Linked DNA regions of Homo sapiens: region 1 is linked to region 2. The links come from fine-mapping of genetic effects on gene expression. A gene starts in region 2. The other region holds a variant in brackets. All regions are shown on one strand. Distances are between the middles of the regions. Region 1 overlaps SPATA6L (spermatogenesis associated 6 like). Region 2 holds the start of SPATA6L (spermatogenesis associated 6 like).

Evidence for each region. PIP is the estimated chance that this variant, and not a neighbour inherited with it, causes the effect.
Region 1: its variant is fine-mapped to the expression of SPATA6L in testis (GTEx, PIP above 0.99).

Annotation. Positions count from the first base shown.
Region 1 is chr9:4,626,107-4,630,644 of GRCh38, reverse strand. It overlaps SPATA6L (spermatogenesis associated 6 like), which reads left to right. Exons shown (of 12, transcript NM_001353486.2): 5 at 1,477-1,554. Among named protein-coding and RNA genes, the nearest start is that of PLPP6, 34 kb to the left of the region's middle. The variant T/C (reference allele first, on the strand shown) is at 2,774.
Region 2 is chr9:4,664,859-4,669,076 of GRCh38, reverse strand. It overlaps SPATA6L (spermatogenesis associated 6 like), which reads left to right and starts at 2,597. Exons shown (of 12, transcript NM_001353486.2): 1 at 2,597-2,865. The coding sequence starts at 2,827. It overlaps PLPP6 (phospholipid phosphatase 6), which reads right to left. Exons shown (of 1, transcript NM_203453.5): 1 at 3,819-4,218. RefSeq lists silencers at 2,669-2,748, 2,759-2,808.

The sequences.
Region 1 (4,538 bases), 39 kb after region 2:
AATATTAGAGACTGGAGGGAGAGACTACTATGGGCTTACCTGGAGGAGTTAGAGTGAGATCAGACATTGAGAGATGGGTAAAATTTGGATGGAAAAGAAAAGAAGGAAGATGCCCTCAGGGCAAGAAGTAACTTGGCCAGGTGGTGTTCTCTGGGGGAGAGTAGAGCAGAGAGGTGATGCAGAGGGGCCACTGGTGAGTCGATGGGGTCAGGTGGAGACAGTGTAATTTAGTCAGATCCAGGTCCTGTCCCTGTGGTGCCATTTATAAACCTTGTAAATTTGGGGAAATTGCCTTAATGTCTCTTTAGGCCTGTTTTTTGGGGAAAGCAGTTGTATTTTAAAAATTATTATACAATAAAATTGATGCTTTTTTGGTCTACAGGTCTATGAATTTTAACACATGTATAGATTTGTAAAACCACTGCTACGAGCAGGATGTAGAACAATCCCATCCCTCCTAAAATCCCCCTCATGTTACCCCTTTATAGGCACTTCCTCACCCTCACCCTGAGCACTAGTCTTTTCTCTATCACCATAGTTTTGTTTTTTTGAGAATGTCACATAAATGGAATCATACAGTCTGTAACCTTTTGAGACTGGCTTTTCTTACTTAGAAGAATGCTGTTGAGATCCATCCATGTAGTTGTGTGTGTCATTCATTTGTTCCTTGTTATTACCGAGTAGTTTCCATTATGTAAATACACCACAGTTCATCTGTTCACCCATTAAGGATGTTTGGATTGTTTCTAGTTTTTGCCCATTTTTCAGTTTTATCATCTGTAAAACAGGATGATTGTAATAATTGTACCTACCCTATAGGATTATAAGAATTAAACAGGATAGGGCATATATATATATATATATATATATATATACACACACACACACATATATAAAACACAATATTTTAGACAGTATGGTACTAAGAACAAAAAATAGAAATAGAAAAATCAATGAAACAAAATGAATTTGGAATTAGATCTAATGAATATAAATATCTGATATAAAATATAAAGCAAGTTTTTCAAAGCAGGTAGGTAGAGAGGAAGGCTCTGTATTCATACCTCTCTCTAGGTAATCTCATTCAATTCCATGGTACAGTGTTTTAAATAGAGTAGCTAACATCATGGACACTGGAGCCGGAATGCCTGGGTTCAATTAATAGCCCTCATTACTAGATGGACATGTTACTTAAACTGTGTCTTAGTTGAGGAGATACTATTATAAAACCTGCTTCATGGGGTTGTGTTAGGATTAGATGAGTTAATATATATGAATTACTTAGGCCTGGCTCTGATACATAATATATATTACATAAGTGTTTAGCTATTCTTATTACATATATATTTTAGATAATGTGTGTGGATTATGCCACACAGAAGAGCAGTTAGGTTCTTGTATGATTTCAAGTTAGAAGGAGATGGCTAAAGAACTGTTTCTAGTAATTTTATTTGCTTTTTTTATGCTGTTTTATAGGGCATTGCTCCCAAAATAGAGTTTTCTACAAGGACAGCCATCAGAGAATGTGTGTTTCTGCATAGAAACAGATTTCTTGTAAGTACAATACAAATCTAGTGATAGAAATGACCGGATTTTTTTTTTTCAAATTTAAAGAATTTTTGCCCAAACTCAGTTTATTAAGTTTACATGAAACTAAACAAGTAGAAACCTGGAAAGTTTTTACTAGGTTTGTATTTCTATAATTCAAACTGTTTGCTCAGCCAGTCATATTAGAGTATGTTTGGTACATACGTTTGGCAGCATGATGTAGCTGGAAGCAGGGTGATTCAGAAGCTAAAATTACAAATTTGATGTAAGTGAGCTAATTAGCTTTTGTTATTGTTGTTCTATGACATTTACTTGTGATCTTATGAACAACAGTTTCCATCTTTCTTTTTTAAAAATTTAAAAATTTTAGGCTGGGCATGGTGGCACTTTGGGAGGCCGAGGCAGGTGGATCACCTGAGGTCAGGAGTTAGAGAAAAGCCTGGGCAACATGGTGAAACCCCACCTCTACCAAAAATACAAAAAGTAGCTGGGCATGGTGGCGTGCGCCTGTAGTCCCAGCTACGGGGGAGGCTGAGGCATGCAAATCGCCTGAGCCTGGGAGGTCAAGGCTGCAGTGAGCCAAGATGGCTCCACTGCACTCCAGCCTGGGTGACAAGAGTGAGACTCCATCTCAGAAAAAAATAATGATAAATAAATAAATAATAAACATAAAATAAAAATTTAGAAATTTTAATTTTTTATGGGTACGTAGTACCTGTATATATTTATGGGGTACATGAGATATTTTGATATAGGCATACAGTATGTAATAATCACATCAAGGTAAATGGTGTATCCATCACCTAAAACATTTATCTTTTGAGTTACAAACAATCCAATTATATTCTTTTAGTTATTTTAAAATTTACAGTTAAATTATTATCGACTATAGTCACCCTGTTGTTCTATCAAATACTAGATCTTATTCATTCTTTGTATTTTTTTTTTGTGCCCTTTAACCATCCCCACTCCCCCTCAGCTCTCATGACCCTTCCCAGCCTCTGGTAACCATCATTCTACTCTCTGTCTCCATGAGTTCAATTGTTTTAATCTTTAGCTCCCACAAATAAGTGAGAATATATAAAGTTTGTCTTTCTGTGCCTGGCTTATTTCACTTGATATAATGGCCTCAACTTCCATCCACGTTGTTGCAAGACATAAAAAATAATGGCTGAATAGCACTCCATTATGTGTATGTAATATAATTTCTTTATCCATTCATCTG[T/C]TGATGGACACTTAGGTTGATTCCAAATCTTGGCTATTGTGAATAGTGCTGCAGTAAACATGGGGCCACCTTTCTTTTGCTGAGGCTGATGCTCGGATTGTATTCATGGTCCGTCTTTGGTAAGCGTGAAGCGTCTTAGGGCATCCATGTGTACTACCTCAATTTTACTTGCTTCTTCAGTCCTAGTGTCTGCCTCCCTCACCCCAATTTCTTTCTGTTTTGCTTTTACCTTATTGCATATAATGTTGTTGCCACTTAAAATCCTTTCTAGAACAAGATGGAGAAGGAATAAAGGTAGTTTGTGAAGCTTCTCCAAATACTTTGGGACAGGGTAGAGTAAAACCTGTAAGTGAAACAAAATGCTTATCCCAGATCTCATGTAGGGTCCTAGAAAAGACCTTGAAAATGTGGGCTGTATGTTACAGAATACTTAATGAGAAAGAAGGGCCAATAATCTGTGCAAATCTATCAAAACTCTTAGCTAAATAACTCATATAATGGGAGACCAATGATTAATTTTAAGGAAGGCATTATCTGCTTTTTAGTTTTGCCTTATTTATCCTCTCTTCTCTCCAATTTATTTGTGATGTGTTCATAGCAATTTTTCAGTGTTTCTTTCTCTTCCATTCTACCATCTTAATGCTGTTTTAACTTCCTAGGTCCTTCTTTCAGTGTTAACTTTTTAAACAAATAGTTTTATTGTTTTTTTTCTTGAACTCCTGGCCTCAAGAGATCCTCTGCTTCAGCCTCCCTACGTGTTGGGATTACAGGCATGAGCCACCACACTGTCTGTTTTTTTTTCCCTTAAAACAAAAGTATCACTTTATGTTAGAAAATTAGAAAACAAAGATAAATAAGCAAAAAGGACCCAAAACTTAAAAAAAACTGTCTCATTCTTGCCATTTAGAGATCAGCATTAATTTTTTTAGTATATTCTGTACACACATCACACTTTTAAAAAAGATTGAGATCACGCTGCATTGCATATTATTTTGTACCCTTCTTTTTTTTACTTAATTTATGATAAACATTTTCTCATGTCCTCAGGTACTCTTGTGCCAGACAATTTTTCATGGCTTCATAGTATTCCATTGTATGGAAGTACTGTAATCTGTCTGGCCATTCATTTTCCTTTTGTTGAGCACTTAACTGATATATCAGCCAGGGTCCAGTCAGGAAACCACACCAAACTTGTGACTGTAACAGAAAGATTTAATTTTTAAAAATGGCTAAACAGGGGTTGAAAGAAAGACTGAAAGATAAAAGGGGAACACTGAAATGACAGAGTAACTGCAGGAAGCAGCTTCCACCCCTAGGGCTGGGGAAACAAAGGGAAGATGTTGGTTCAGCAAGAACACAGAAGCTTAAAGAAGAAACTGAACAGAAATGGGACCCAGACCTCTGGAGAAGGGCTGCTTTCCTGGATGCTTCTTCAGGAATTCGAAGGTGGGACTTGGATGAGCTGGAACTCAGATCTCAAAGGAGGGGCACTGCTCACTGCTGGTGCCACAGGAGCTTGGAGGAAGGTTCCTGTGGGTCTAGACTCAAATCTGAACAGGGGGCTCTGGTCAGCTGCCGCTGATATGTCTGGAGGAGTGCAATGGGGCTAGTCCTGGCATAATAGGGGAAAGGCTATAATCTGGAGCCATTTGCAGCTGTTAAGGCGAAGAATGGTTGCAGGAATGATGCTAACAGGAATAGAATGCAAAACTGGAAGTAGCCAGTCACTGTGTCTCCTCCAGCCTTGCACTTTCTCTAGCACCTT
Region 2 (4,218 bases):
TCCCATACCCTTCCCACTAGTGCTGTCTCTTTAATAGTTTCTTCCTTTCATATGAATACACTTATTATTTGAAATATTTATGATTTTTGTCTTATAATTAATTTTTTTAGTTAAAAAAAAATCTCAGCCATAATTATCTGTCATATTCTTGTTCTTTGTTAATTTACTCTTTGGAAAATCCCCATTTGGGGCATGTTTCATTTTCTTGTCTGGGGCCAGGATGTGAACGGGATGTGCTGCTGTATCATTTCTGCAATGCTGATGTCACTGCTGGCCAAGCTGCACTGCAGATACTCTCTGGAAATAGCAGTTGTTCATTGAAATCTGTTTGCTGCCACCAAGAGGTACCTACCCAGGTAATAAAGGCTTTCTCTTGAAGTGGTGACAGTCCAATCCTTAAAAGGCTTTGTTGGCCCCCGGCAGAGGTGGACAGCCTCAATGATAAATAACTTTGCAAGATGAGTGAGAGGGACTGGGTGTGTATAGCAACTGCCACATCTCCACAGCAGCTGAGAGCCTCAGGTAACCATGGCGGGGACAATTAGGAGAGTGTGAAGTATCCCCATCAACTCATTTAATATCACCATAGCAGATTTGCAGAAGTAGCTGTGCCTGGTCCTTTCTAATTCTGCAGATTTCTTTTACCCATTGTGATGGGACCTCTCTTTATCCATGTACATTAACCCCCACAGATTGGCTTGACCATCTCTGCATTTAATATTCAAAAATATTTATTATCTTCTATCCTATTTAGGGTATAAACGCTTAGCCATGCAGAGTTTACAGATTAAGGAGACAAATAGTAATCAAGAGTCACAGGAACAAATGTAAAACTGCTATTATGGCAGTCGCTACAAAGAGGAGATATATATATTTATATGTATGACATAAGATATGATATTGAGATTCCACCTTGTCAGCAGAAGAGAGGTCTTGGTGGGGTATGTAAATCTGTATACATGTGTTAATCAATGTCTGCAATGGATGACACTCTAAGTAAAGGGTATAGAGTGAGGAAAGGAAAGGACCTAGAAACATTGCTTAGCCAGAGGAGGATAAACAGACAAAGAAAGAATAGCCAGAAAGTTGGAGGGAAACCAGAAGAGAGCTGTGCCCTAGCAGCCAAGCAAGGAGAGTCCAGTTAGATCAAGAGTTAAGACTAAGAAGAGCATAGAATGGAACATTGTGTCTCTAGAGATCAACAGGATGTCTATATTGCAGACCCAGTGATGTGGTAGGGCACACCTGGATTCAAATGTGGCTGCTCCCTTATTAGGTCTGTGGCTTTTAGTAAAAGGCTGTCTAGCTTCAGATTCTGCATCTGTAAAATAGGGATAATATCTCCCTGATAGAGTTATTGTAGGGTTGAGATGAATTAGCATACGCAATGTGCCTAGCACTTTGCAGATCCTCAGTAAAGACTGATTCTTCTCTCCCAATACAACTCTGGCTATTTATTAATTTGTTTTGCTTGTCACTCTCCTTGATTTCTTAGCATTGGTGTTGGTGACCTACCTGTTAGGATCATCACAGGTCCTGTCCCACATCACTCTGGGTGTCAGCAAGTTGTGAGTGACAAATCAATGATCTGGACACTATAGATAGTTAGGTGCCCACCTGTATCTCTTGATATGCAGAGAGACACAGCACTAGGAACTGGATAAGGATACAATATGCCCTTCTTCATCATACCAAGTTTTTCCCTTCCAGGGAAATAAACTCCAGTTACCAAAATGAATACCCAATCTTGTCTTGACCATCCTTCTGCACTATTTCCAATTGTATAACTCTCTAATGCAAAATATTAGTAATAAATGACTGAACATAATTTAGGATTTAAAATTTTTTTTTCAGAGGCAGCATTGGCCTTCCTAGATTTTTTGGATTGCTAGAAGGAGCCACTACCTGCTCCTTTCCTTCATTTTTCTCTATTAGATGTAGTGAATGTCCCCTACTCATTCAGAACTCTTGCTCTGCGCACCACCTCTGACAGTGTTTACAGTAACTGTGGTTTTGGCAAATGCAATAACTACCCATTGGACTACTCAATGCTTGCCTTAAACTAAACCCCAGAAAAGGCTGGACACCGTTATGGAAAGACTGACATATTTCTATTGCTGCTAACAGGGGATACCTAACTTTTAAATATGTTTAAGAATTAACCTTATATTTCTAATTAGCACACGTTTGTTATTGACGGTGGCCATGTTTTCCGAAGCAAACATAACATTTAATAAGCAAAAGAGTATTTTTAGGAACAGGCAACTATATTAAATGAGAATTGTTACAGAAACTACAAGGCTTGGGGTCGTGCAGCTACTAAACGTGTACTATTTAAATTATAACAGACCTATGATCTCATTCTACTTTCAGAATGAAAACGGTAAACATTCTGACATGGTAATTGGGGATAGCAGGAGCTGATGGAAAGAAGATCGGGATTGTTAGCATTTCTCTATCCGTCTAGCACGCCAGACAGGGCCAGTCTCTCCGGCTGGGGGCACTGCGTGGGCAACAGCGACCGTGAGGGCGCGCGTCTGCGCTGGGGCCTCGCGCGCGTTCCACGATGAAGACTGCGCGTTTGAGTGTCCCTGGCAACGCCACGCTTCCGCCTTCTGGAAGCCTGCACTCCAGCTTCGAGTGTGAGAGACCCGTCCCGGTGGGAGGGACCTGGGCTGGGGGGGACGGTAGGGGAACAAGGGCGTGGGACTGGGGAAGCTTCTGGGAACATTTGCTCTAGGTATTCAGCTAAACTAAGAAAAATTGGTCCAAGGCTCGGCACAAAAGGATCTTCTCATTCCAGTCCTTTCGCCCACGCAGGGAACGATGCCTCTGGAGGTGGTGGTGGAGCTGCAGATCCGGGCGGTAAGAGATCGATGAACTCCCCCTCCTTAACCTCAAGTCGGACTCTAAATAGTCTCAGGTGGTTTTCAACAACCCTCCCCCACATCCCCCACTTACCACAAACACATCATTATCTTCTGGGACAGATCGCACCTTTGTCTTTTTCTCCATATTGGTTTTCCCTGACTTCCTAACCTTTAATTCAGCTCCACCTGTTCCCACTTTTTTTTTTTTCTGTTCTAAAGCTAACATGTTTCTTATCTTTATCATGAATTTTTAATTTCTTTTCAAACAACCCTGCATTAAGTCCAGGTAGAATTTATTTTCTTCTCCTGGATAAAGATTTGTGAAAGGATTTTCAACTTCTTTAAATAACCAGGGAATAATTTTAAAAAGCTCCATCACTTCCTGATTATTTGCCAACTCTATGAACCAATCAGATATTTTCTATGATATTTCCCCTTAGTGATAGCTCTGGCTTGCTAATTCCAAAAGGGAAATCAATCAATCACTATTTCGTAATTACCAAATCCTTCCTAAGTGAAGTGCTGTGGCAGAGTGACTCCATGGTTTCTACTTGGGGGTCTGTCACTCCCTCTTATTTCAGTTTCCATTTTCCAATCCTTCCATGTAGTTAGTAACAGAATATCATGCCGCTTTTCCTCTAGGGGCTTTTCTACTGGCTATGATTACAAGCACAGTGCTAACAGGAAATTGTCATGGAATCTGGTTGTCTTCCATACAATTGGCAAATGGTGTGGTTTCATCATACATGTGGGTGTGAAAGGTGATCAACATTTCCTGGATTTGTCCCACTTTGCTGACAGCAAATAGGGCTAGACCTTATTAGTAGTGCTATACCAGTTTTAAGCTCTAAAAATTGTGCAGGAAGAAGGAACTCTTGAGAAGCTAAGTGATAAATCTGTCTCCCTCCTCATCAAGGCAAAAATTAAGCAAGTTTTCATCTCACTTCATTCACCATTATTTGTTAATTTTATTTTGATTTTTAAAAGGCATTATTCAGTGTACAATTAACAAAGAAATCAGTTTTCTACTCTACTGTACTTAGGATGCTTCAAAAACATCAGGTGAAATGATCTATGCTTTAAGAGCCAGAAAACTCAGGCCTCAGCAACTAAAACAGAGAATTCCAAAATTGTAATTACAAATCAGATGGTAAGCCTAATTTCATGCCCCTAATATTCAGATTTGTGGACACTGCAAGAGGAAATATCATTTGCTTCCAAATATCTGGCTTGAATATTGCTGCAGTTAAAGGATCTCGCTAAGGTTAAACAACAAACCCAAACCACTTAGAGCTTCACAGTTTAGCTGCTTTAGCAAGTGAAGAGGTAGTCGGTATTCAGGATGCTG